Homo sapiens: one gene and its partners. The protein of the gene in region 1 purifies or fractionates together with the protein of each later gene. This does not show direct contact. Each region holds a gene or a part of one and is shown on either strand. Other genes may lie near its edges. The genes, in order: FAM131C, RHBDF2 and AGPAT2.

The links.
Region 2: the proteins of FAM131C (region 1) and RHBDF2 purify together in Homo sapiens (affinity purification with mass spectrometry; one large-scale study listed by BioGRID and IntAct). This does not show direct contact.
Region 3: the proteins of FAM131C (region 1) and AGPAT2 purify together in Homo sapiens (affinity purification with mass spectrometry; one large-scale study listed by BioGRID and IntAct). This does not show direct contact.

What each region holds. Positions count from the first base shown.
Region 1 is NC_000001.11:16,067,113-16,070,758, reverse strand, and holds part of FAM131C (protein FAM131C), read left to right. Parts: intron 1-3,646.
Region 2 is NC_000017.11:76,480,897-76,484,542, reverse strand, and holds part of RHBDF2 (inactive rhomboid protein 2), read left to right. Parts: intron 1-2,997; 5' UTR 2,998-3,018; coding exon 3,019-3,168; intron 3,169-3,646. UniProt on the Homo sapiens protein: Regulates ADAM17 protease, a sheddase of the epidermal growth factor (EGF) receptor ligands and TNF, thereby plays a role in sleep, cell survival, proliferation, migration and inflammation. Does not exhibit any protease activity on its own.
Region 3 is NC_000009.12:136,677,400-136,681,045, reverse strand, and holds part of AGPAT2 (1-acyl-sn-glycerol-3-phosphate acyltransferase beta), read left to right. Parts: intron 1-3,489; coding exon 3,490-3,623; intron 3,624-3,646. UniProt on the Homo sapiens protein: Converts 1-acyl-sn-glycerol-3-phosphate (lysophosphatidic acid or LPA) into 1,2-diacyl-sn-glycerol-3-phosphate (phosphatidic acid or PA) by incorporating an acyl moiety at the sn-2 position of the glycerol backbone.

The DNA of each region.
Region 1 (3,646 bases):
GTTGCTGGGCGGACTAAATGGCTTAATTCATGTAAGGCATTCAGACCAGTACCCAACACATAGTAAGCACTCGTACATATTAGCTATTGCTCTCATTTTTACTTTTAATTTTAATATTGTATATATTATAATAGAGACAGGCTCTCACTATGTTGCCCAGGCTTATCTCGAACTCCTGGCCTCAAGCCACCCTCCCACCTCGGCCTCCCAAAGTGCTGGGATTACAGGTGTGAGCCACTGCACCCGGCCTTTAATTTTTATTACCTGTCTGTGCAGACAGCTAATGTGGGCCTTCATGGCTGGAAGGGGAAACCTACAGAGGTTTTAAGCCACATCCTGCCTCATGGGAAAGGCAGCGGGTGGCAGGCACTCGAGGTGCTGAGGACATTGAGAAAGTGATTGGGACCAGATTAAGGCAACAAATGCTGTTTCCAGGAGCTATTTTGCATTCATTATCTATTTTTAAGCTACCGTTTGTTGAGCGCTTATCCTGAGCTAGGCTGAGCCTTTGCTCTCCTGACCTAGTTAGTTCTCATTCAACCCTGTGACAAGGGATGTGGGGCTCAGAGAACGGGAGGGTCTTCCCTCAGGTCACATGGCCAGGGCATGGAGAGGCAGGACTTGAATCCAGGTCAATGTGACCCCAGAGCCTGAGTGTGGAAACCCCGTCCTTTGCTTTCTTACGTCCCTATAGAGAGAGAGGTGCTATGGCTCACGCTTATAATCTAAATACTGGGAGGCTGAGGCGGGAGGATCGCTTGAGCCCACGAGTTCAAGACCAGCCTGTGCAACATAGTGAGACCCCATCTCTACAAAAAACTTTTTAAAAATTACCTAGCTGTGGTGGTGTGTGCTGGTAGTCCCAGCTATTTGGGAGGCTGAGGCAGGAGGATGGCTTGAACCCAGGAGGTCGAAGCTGCAGTGAGCTGTGATTACTCCACCGCACTCTAGCCTGGGCAACAAAGACCCTGTCTCAAAAACAAAAAGAGGTGCTAAGTATATGGCCAGTGCTTAGAAAAACAACCTCTTGGAACACTTGAATGGTCCCTATTTGTTGGGGGCTCTGCAACCAATGGCAGTCTGTATGGAACAGAGAGGAATATTTGCCCCCCTTCTCTCCAGTTCCAGGGGCTCAGTACCCGCTCCATGCCCTTGGTGCCATAACCACTCTGCCTCCTCACTCATGCCCCAGCCCTCTCCTCCAGGCCAACTGATCAGCCTCCTGGCCCCACCTTGGGGGTATCCAATGCACTGGGGGCCGGTGGGGTCGGGGGTGAGAGTAGAAATTAGAGACCGAGAATTTTCTTCTGGAAACTCAGACATCTGATCATGTCTGGGTGAAGGCACAAGCTCTAAGGGGGCCGACCAGAGCCACCCATAGTTTCCAAGTCCTGAGCAGTCCTACACCAGGCACTGAGGAAAGGGTAGGTGGGACCTTGCCCTTCGGGAGCTCACAGTCTGATGAGAGAGGTACAGCTTTGCCCGTGGAGTAGCCTAATGGGGGAGGCAGTATGCATGAACCCTTGGAAGGATGCCCCGAGGACCCTGTCTGGAGATCAGCACTGTTTAGTGGTTGGGGCACAAGCTTTGGAGTTTCACAAGGGCCGAAGTGTGACCCTCATCTCTGCTGCTTATTAGCAGGTGACCTTGCATAAGTGATTTATCCTCTCTGAGCCTCCGTTTCCCTATCTGTAAAATGGGCATAACATGTACTTTGCAGGATTGTTGTGTGGGTTAAATGAGAGATCATGGGTGAACAGGCCTAGGACAGACAGTACCTGACACAGTACTGTCACACCTGCTCAGTAAACAGTGGCGGCAAATCACTGCAGGCCAGACTTTGGCCATTAGGACCACAGGTGAGGTACCTAATCCAGCAGAGGCCAATCTGGGCAGGTTGCTTGTGGGAGGTGAGGCTGGAGCAAGATGTTCCCAGAGGCCAGGTCACAGGATGGGAGGGAGCCTGGGGAAGGAAGTGGGGAGGAGCTGGGGTGTGTGGAAGTCCTGGGGAGGAGCCCATTTTCTCTCTCCATCCTTGCACGGGGAGAGAAAGGGACCCCCTTGGATAGCTCTGAGCTGAGCCAACCCACAGATGAGCTATTGTCACGGCTCAGGTGACCTGTAAACAAATGTCCTGGGGAGGAGGGGACACTCAGTCCACTCGAGGCCTGGCCTCTGCCAAGCTCTGTGGCCTGCTCCCCTGGCAGTGACTCAACAGGCAGAGCGGCCAAGGACTCACCCTCAAGGGCTTCCCTCTGCGGAGCCTCCAGAGCCAGCTCCAGCCCTGGGGACAGGACCAGAGGAGTGGCTGACCAAGATGTGTCCCATTGTCCAGAGAGAGACACTGAGGGGAGAGGGGTGGAGCGGCTGCTGCTTACGGACTGCTTGCTGTGGCAGGTGCTTCCTCCTTGCTGCAGCCCTTTCTGGGCTGGTATTATTTCACAGATGAGAATCCAAGGCTCACAGGGGCTAAGTCCCATGCCCACCCCCTGCAGCGGAAAGTGAGAAGCGGGGACTTAAACCCAGCTCAGGGACCGTAAGAGGAATGCCTTGGCCGCTTACGTTCTCTTCAGAGCCAAGGGCAGAGCCCGGCACATCACAGCTGGGCAGTACACACCCGGGCAATGGTTGGCTAGAGGGGCCGCATCGGCTGCAGGTGCCCTGAGAAGCTGAGCAGAGAAGCCCGAGGCTGGCCGGGGAGGAGCATGAGGGGACGCTTTGACCCCAGGCTGCTGCTCAGTTTCTGTGTGGTTTTGAGAGGATATTTACCCTCCCTGGGCTGCTGCAGAGTCAAACACGGTCCCTCTCTGCCCTCTGGGGTGCAGAGCCCTGGGAGGCACTCTTGGGGTAGATGGCAACCATGGTGACTAATGGGTTGGGACACGGAGCCCCAGAGAACAGCTTAAAGGAGTTGGAAGGCCCTGAAGCAGACGAGAGGAGCCTGAGGGGTTGTGCTGCAGACTCACCCAAGGATCAAGTAGAGAAGACCAACCAGTATGGGAACTGCAACAAGAGGGGTTTAGGCTAGACATCAGGAGGAACTGTCTGGGAGGTTAGACTCTAAAGCAGATTGAAGAGGAGCTGGCATAGGAAGGCAGGAAGCACCCTCAAGATGCAGAGGAGAAGCTCTGGTTGAAGACAGAGGGATGGAGGAGACATCTGGTTGACACCCTCTCCTTGAAGAATCAAGATGGCCCTCTCCAGGTTGCCATGGCAGCCAGAAGCCTGTCACTCTTGTGGACAGAGGAGGTGGGGGAGGGAGCAGGTCTGAGAAGGGAATTCTGACCTTGAGGTCAGGAGACTAGGGTGTGGACTGAAAGAAAGGGGGTGTCCTTCTGGGAGAGGGAGCCACAGGAGCAGGTGCTAGCGGTCCCTTCGGGCTGCCTCCCAGCCCCCACCCCACATGACACTCTGTGTTTTTCCAGTTGCCAGTGGTGACGTGACCACCAGTCCCAGCTGGGCGAAGAACAGCCTGTGATTTCACCCTGGGCTGGTTCATTACCTGACGTCCCCATGGCAACCAGCCTGTGACATCATGGGGCCAAAGTCCTCAGGGGGAGCAGGCAGCTTTGGTGGAGGCACCTGAACCCCAACTGAGGTGGGGAGCCAGGCGGGCTGGGGAGGGGGTGGGAGCCAGGAGTCCTCC
Region 2 (3,646 bases), on another chromosome or scaffold:
TGAGCCTCCAGGTGAGGAGATGGTGGAGGTGAGGTGGAGATGGTGGAGGTGAGGTAGAGATGGAGGAGGAGGACAGGTTCAGATGGCTGCTGTCTCGCCGACCCGTGCATGCCACGCCTCAGCCCACACACGCCCTTGGCTGAAGGGCTCCCAGGGAGATGGGTATGGAGTCCCTGGCTTCGTACAAGGAGAGGAAAAACAAAACTTGCCCAGGAACCTTGGGATGTGAAGGAGAGGAAACAGCTGGGGGGGTTTATTTTTATTTTTATTTTTATTTTTGAGACGAAGTTTCGCTCTTGTTGCCCAGGCTGGAGTGCAATGGTGCAATCTCGGCTCACTGCAACCTCTGCCTCCCGGGTTCAAGCAATTCTCCTACCTCAGCCTCCCGAGTAGCTGAGATTACAGGCATGCGCCACCACACCCAGCTAATTTTTTGTATTTTTAGTAGAGACGGGGTTTCTCCATGTTGGTCATGCTGGTCTCGAACTCCCGACCTCAGGTGATCTGCCCACCTTGGCCTCCCAAAGTGCTGGGAGTACAGGCATGAGCCACCGCGCCCGGCCACAGCTGGGGGTTTTAACAAGAAGACGGTCATGGGGCAGAGCAAGAGACGAAACGAAGAGAATGAAACAGGCAGAGGGTGTTAATTCTGGTGGAGTCAGAGGGGAACTGGGGACTGGTGGCACACGCACAGGAAAGCCCCAGATGGGGTACTGGGCAACAGCCACTGAAATTTGGGATGTACTTACTCTTCAACCCAGCCATTCTGCTTCCAGAACTTGGTCTTGTAATAGTTAAACAAGCACACGCGGTGTATGCAAGGGTGTTAGTTGCAACATCAGACCCATGTCTCAAATTCCGGAAACATCCTAAATAACCAGCAGTCTGGACTTAAGTAAATCTTGGTGCATTCCACTTATGAAATCTTTGCATTCATCAAAAAAGACAAGAGGCCTAGGGCCGGGTGTGGTGGCTGAAACCTGTAATCCCAGCACTTTGGGAGGCCGAGGCAGGTGGATCACCTGAGGTCAGGAGTTCGAGACCAGCCTGACCAACATGGAGAAACCCCATCTCTACTAAAAATACAAAATTAGCTGGGCGTGGTGGCGCATGCCCGTAATCCGAGCTTCTTGGGAGGCTGAGGCAGGAGAATCACTTGAACCTGGGAGGTGGAGGTTGCGGTGAGCCGAGATCGCGCCACTGCACTCCAATCTGGGTGACAGAATGAGACCCCATCACAAAAAAAAAGAAAAAAGAAAAAAAGTAGGTCTGTCCGTATGTGTTGACAGGGAAAGATGTCTACAATGCAGGTAAAATGATAGAGTGTGGGCTGGGCTTGGTGGCTCACGCCCATAACCCCGGCTACTTGGGAGGCTGAGGCAAGAGAATTGCTTGAACCTGGGAGGTGGAGGGTGCAATGAGATTGGCTCACAGCAATCTCTTCCTCTCGGGTTCAAGTGATTCTCCTGCCTCAGCCTCCCGAGTAGCTGGAACTACAGGAATGAGGCACTATGCCTGGCTAATTTTTGTATTTTAGTAGAGATGGTGTTTCACTGTGTTGGCCAGGCTAGTCTCGAACTCCTGACCTTAAGTGATCCATCCACCTTGGTCTCCCAAAGTGTTGGGATTGTACGTGTAAGCCACCACACACAGCTGTGTGATTTTTTTTTTTTTTCAATGAGCATATGCCACTTTTATTGTTAAACAGTGTTCTCACTATGGGGGAGAAAAGTGCCAGACAGGTGGCAGTTTCAGTTATCTTTTTTTTTTGAGACATTTTCTCACTCTGTCGCCCAGGCTGGAGTGCAGTGGCATGATCTTGGCTCACTGCAACCTCTGCCTCCTGGGTTCAAGCAATTCTCGTGCCTCAGCCTCCCAAGTAGCTGGGATTATAGGCATGCGCCACCACACCTGGCTAATTTTGTATTTTTAGTAGAGACAGGGTTTTACCATGTTGGCCAGGCTGGTCTCAAACTCCTGACCTCAGGTGATCCACCTACCTCGGCCTCCCAAAGTGCTGGGATTACAGGCATGAGCCACGCACCCAGCCAGTTTTAGTTATCTTTGAAAAATGAACTGGGGCTGGGCACAGTGAGCTTGCACCTGTAATCCCAGCACTTGGGAGGCCAAGGCAGGCAGATGGCTTAAGCCCAGGAGTTCCAGACCAGCCTGGCTAACATGGAGAGACCCCCACCTCTACAGAAAAAAGACAAGAAAAATAAACTGGGTGGCCTTGGGGGACAGGGACCAGCACAGTAGGTTTCTCATCTCTCGGCCCACCTCGGCCTCCCCAAGTGCTGGTATTACAGGTGTGAGCCACCGTCCCTGGCCTGCATCTTCATGCTCTTTTCAGGGTTTGGTTCTTGCCTCAAGCGGAGAGATCAGAAATTGAATGAGGTAGTAAGTTGAGGACCTCCCAGACCCATATGGTCCGGGATGCAAATGATGGTCAGAAATAGACCTCACTCCAACCACTGGGCCTGAGGTTCAGCCTGGTTCAGGCTGGGTTTAGTCCCCAGGGATGGTTTGTTTTTGGTTTTGTGTGTGTGTGTGTGTGTGTGTGTGTGTGTGTGTGTGTGTGTGTGTGTGTTTTCAGACAGAGTCTTGCTCTGTCGCCAGGCTGGAGTGCAGTGGCGCGATCTCGGCTTACTATAACCGCTGCCTCCTGGGTTCAAGCCATCCTGCCTCAGCCTCCCGAGTAGCTGGGATTACAGGCACGTGCCACCACGCCTAGCTAATTTTTTGTATTTTTAGTAGAGACGGGGTTTCACCATGTTGGCCAGGATGGTCTCGATCTCCTGACCTCGTGATCCCCCCACCTCGGCCTCCCAAAGTGCTGGGATTACAGGCGTGAGCCACCGCGCCCAGCCGCCCAGAGATGTTTGAACCAACTTTAGGCAAGTTGGTTCTTGGTCTGGGCTGCGTGCCCTGGCGTCAGGGTCCTGACACTGCGCCACCCCGCACCGCCCACCGCTGCTCTCCCGGTCTCCATTCCAGCCCTCCCGCCTCCTGCCCACAATGGCCTCTGCTGACAAGAATGGCGGGAGCGTGTCCTCTGTGTCCAGCAGCCGCCTGCAGAGCCGGAAGCCACCCAACCTCTCCATCACCATCCCGCCACCCGAGAAAGAGACCCAGGCCCCTGGCGAGCAGGACAGCATGCTGCCTGAGGTAAGGGGGCTGGCCTGGGGGCTCACTGTTCTGCCGTAGGTAACAGATGTACCCACGTGACACTTTCTGGTCAGTTTCACTTCCCAGAGGGGCTCCTTCCTGAGCCACAGCTGCTGTCTGTGCAGCCCTTGACTCGGGCCCTACCCCCTCCTTCCTGGGCCCGAAATATCACAGGGAGTAAAGCCAGGAACCGGGCTCACTCTCATCGTGGTCAGGGGCACACAGGAAGGGCCAGCCCCAAGAAAGTGCTTGCTGGTAACCCTGGGGCCCTGGCTGTTCTCATTTCACCCCCTAGGCCTGGACTCTCAGTCTCTCTTCTGAGGGCTGGGGGCTTTCTTTGACATGGGTGAGCAGGGGACAGTGTCTCCCTGGCATCAGCAGCCCGCCTAGGCAGTGTCCGCTTCCTTTGGGAGGACGAGAACAGATCAGTGTTTCTGACAGTCTGGTCTAGTGCCCCATAAAGAGCTCATTGAAAACC
Region 3 (3,646 bases), on another chromosome or scaffold:
GCCACGGAACCGTGTGCTGAGAAATGGGTACAATTATATTGTTTAGGTGGTGCGTGTTATACCACAATCAAAACAGAGGAGGGCTCGGCGCGCTGGCTCCTTCCTGTCATCCCAGCACTTTGGGAGGCCGAGGCGGGCGGATCATGAGGTCAGGAGTTTGAGACCAGCCTGGCCGACATGGTGAAACCCCGTCTCTACTAAAAATACAAAAATTAGCCGGGTGTGGTGGCGCACACCAGTAGTCCCAACTACTTGCTAGGCTGAGGCAGGAGAATCGCTTGCCGGGAGGTGGAAATGGCAGTGAGCTGAGATCTCGCCACTGCACTCCAGCCTAGGTGACAGCAAGACTCCGTCTCAAAAAAAATAAAAAATAAATGAAGATCTTATTTTTTAATAATTTCAGATTTACAGAGAAGTTGCAAAGATATTACGGGGGACCCCATGTGGCCCTCACCAGTTTCCTCCCTTGTTAACATCTTACATCACCAAGATGCAGTTGTTAACACTAAGAAACTAGCTGGCCGGGCGCGGTGGCTCACACCTGTAATCCCAGCACTTTGGGAGGCCGAGGTGGGAGGATCACCTGAGGTCAGGAGTTCGAGACCAGCCTGGCCAACATGGTGAAACCCCGTCTCTACTAAAAATACAAAAACTAGCCAGGCCTGGTGGCAGGCACCTGTAATCCCAGCTACTCAGGAGGCTGAGGCAGGAGAATTGCTTGAACCCGGGAGGCAGAGGTTGCAGTGAGCTGAGATCACACCACTGCACTCCAGTCTGGGTGACAGAGTGAGACCCTGTCTCAAAAATAAAAAAGTAAATAAAAGATGGAACTGGCCAATGTCACTACCAGAGGGAACCAATGTCCCTTTCAGATGTGGCCCGAGCCTCCTGCAGGCAGCTAGCTTTGGAATTGCAGGTGTGTCTTGGCTGCTGCTAGAAATCATACACATGTCCTTCACAGGAGATGAGTGTGGACCTGTCCTGTTCTTTCCCCGCGCCCCAGCTGTCTGTGAAATGGACCCTAATTTACTTTCCCTCTTTCTACTGGTGGCTATTTAAGCATTTTCAGGTTTTCCTAATTCACTGCACACTTCAGCACCACAGGCTTCTCACTCCAGCCGTCGGGCGAATTCCTGGAAGATTCTGAGAGGGGAGGGGCCAGGTTTCCTCAGGGCTCTGGCCGGGCCTGCCAACCTGCCCTCCACAGAAGTATCTTGTCTGTGCGACTCCTCACTCCTGCCAGCCGCTGGGCCTGTTCCCAACACCCTGGCTGGCACCTCCTGTTATCAGGCGTTTTAATCTGTGCCAGGGGGAAGGATGAGGACAGTCTCTTGTTTCCATTTGCGCTTCTTTGATTGGCGACACGGCCGTCTTGCTAGCACCAGACAGTTCTGTGTTTCCTGTTGGTGAACTGCCGGCTTTTGCCTCCTCGTCTTCTTGGAGCGTCACAGGGGTCCGGGAAGCTGGATTGCGCAAATGAGTGTGGAGGCAAAACAGCCCTGCAGTTCCCCTGAGTGTGCGGGTGCTACCAGCCCGGGTGTGCCTTCTGGGTGGGAGGGGACGGTGGCCGGCGCGGCCTGGAGAGGAGATATCTAGAGTTGGCTGAGGAAGGCAGATCTGAGGAGGCCCCAGGCTTCCAAGTCCAGGGACGGACGGCTGGACTCATCACCAGAATTAACCATTAGGCCCCCCTTGACTCAGTTTCCCCATCTGCAACAGGGGGTCATGAGCATTGCCCCATCAGCCTGAGGTGGTGCTGCCGCAGGCCTGGGCTCACACATGGAAGGGCAGAGTGCCAGGGCTGGGGAGGGGACAGGGGTTTGTGTCGCATGGGAACAGACGTCAGCCAGAGAAGGTGGAGAGTTCTGGAGATAGAGGGAGGAGATGGCTGCTAGACACCGAATGTGCCCAGCGCCCATGAACTGTGCACCCGGAAAAGGCCAAGGAGATACATTTTATGTTACGTGTATTTTACCACAATTTTTTTTTAAAGGCCGGGCGAGTTGGCTCAGGCCTGTAAGCCCAGCACTTTGGGAGGCCGAGGTCGGCAGGTTGTTTGAGCCTAGGAGTTCGAGACCAGCCTGGCCAGAGATGGTGAAAGCCCATCTGTACCAAAAATACAAAAACTAGCGAGGTGTGGTGGCTCACGTCTGTGGTCCCAGCTAGTCAGGAGCCTGAGGTGGGAGGAGCCCAGGAGGTGGAGGCTGGAGTGAGCCCAGATTGTGACACTGCACAATGTGACACATTGTGTCACAGAGCAAGACAGAGCAAGGGGAGCCTGGGTGACAGAGCAAGACCCTGTTAAAACAACAAAAATCCCCACCAGTATGGCTTTGAGAGAAGGCCCCGGCTTTGAATCTCTGCTCTGTGGCCTGGGGCAGTTACTCAGACTCATCTGTAGAAAGTGTGGGGCCCTTAGGACTGCTGGGGGATCAAATGGTGGGGGGCACTAGTCTGCATGGAGAGGGGAGCAGCACTGGCAGCCCCCCAGTCAGCGCTGGCACAGCCTTGCCCCGGCCATCCACCCCTGCTGGAGCTTCGGAGTGGAGCTCCGTCCTCCTGGCTCCATCCCCGCCGGCTGCCCTGTGATGGGGTGCCCTATCTGGGGTGTGCCCAGAGCTTCCTGGCAGCACAGCAGGGCAGAGGTTGGGACGCTCGGAGCTGGTCAGAGTCTTCGGGTACCCCTTGGACATCCCTGGTCCCAACCATGACGGGCTGCTTGGACAAGGCCACCTCACATTTGCAGGTGCTCCAAGGGCAGCCCCCAGTGGGCTGGGCCCCTGCCAGAGTGGGGGCTGCTGTGGCCAGGGCTCAGGTGGCCCAGACCCTGGCTCTGCTGCTGCTCCTGGTGTGACCTCAGACAAGCCCCGAGCCCCTCGCCGCCTCTTCACGGGGAAAGGGAACCGGCCTGATTCTGTAGGGTAGGGGTGAGAGAGGGTCTCGGTCTCGGCTCTTTTCTGGAAGAACCTTTCGGAGGTCGTTTCAGAGGTCTCCACTGGCGCCGACACTTTCTTCCTGATGTGGCCCTGCCTTGAGGGGCCAGTGACCTTCCCCAGGGTGTGTGGGGCCCCATTTCCTCTGCTGGGGTGCAGAGGCTGCTCTCCCCGACGTGGGTCCTTCATAGCGGACGTGAGAGCCAGTGCCAGTTCCTTTCCGGCTGGGTCCCCTGTGGGGTGGATGAGGGCTGGGTGGGCCCTGGATGTGGATTTGGAAGTGGGCGCCTTCCCATGCTCCTAGCATCCGAGTTCCAGAGGCTCTGGGTTTTCCTCTGTTGCTGGGGAGACGGAGGCAGGGCAGCCGTCCAGGTGGGTGAGCCGGGCCCGGGACTCTGTCCGCTTCAGGGGCTCCCTCCCCTGTGTCTCCCGGTCTCCTGCCCCGTGCCAGGAGGGCCCCTCCCCAGCCTCCTCCACACCCCACCCCCAGGCCTTCGCGCCCCAGCCTCGGCTGCGGGATCTGTGGGACCCGTGTTCATGGTGGCCTCCCCTGCAGCATCATCGGCTGGTTCGTGCGAAGCTTCAAGTACTTTTACGGGCTCCGCTTCGAGGTGCGGGACCCGCGCAGGCTGCAGGAGGCCCGTCCCTGTGTCATCGTCTCCAACCACCAGAGCATCCTGGACATGATGGGTAGGCCGGGCCTCGGGGGTGGC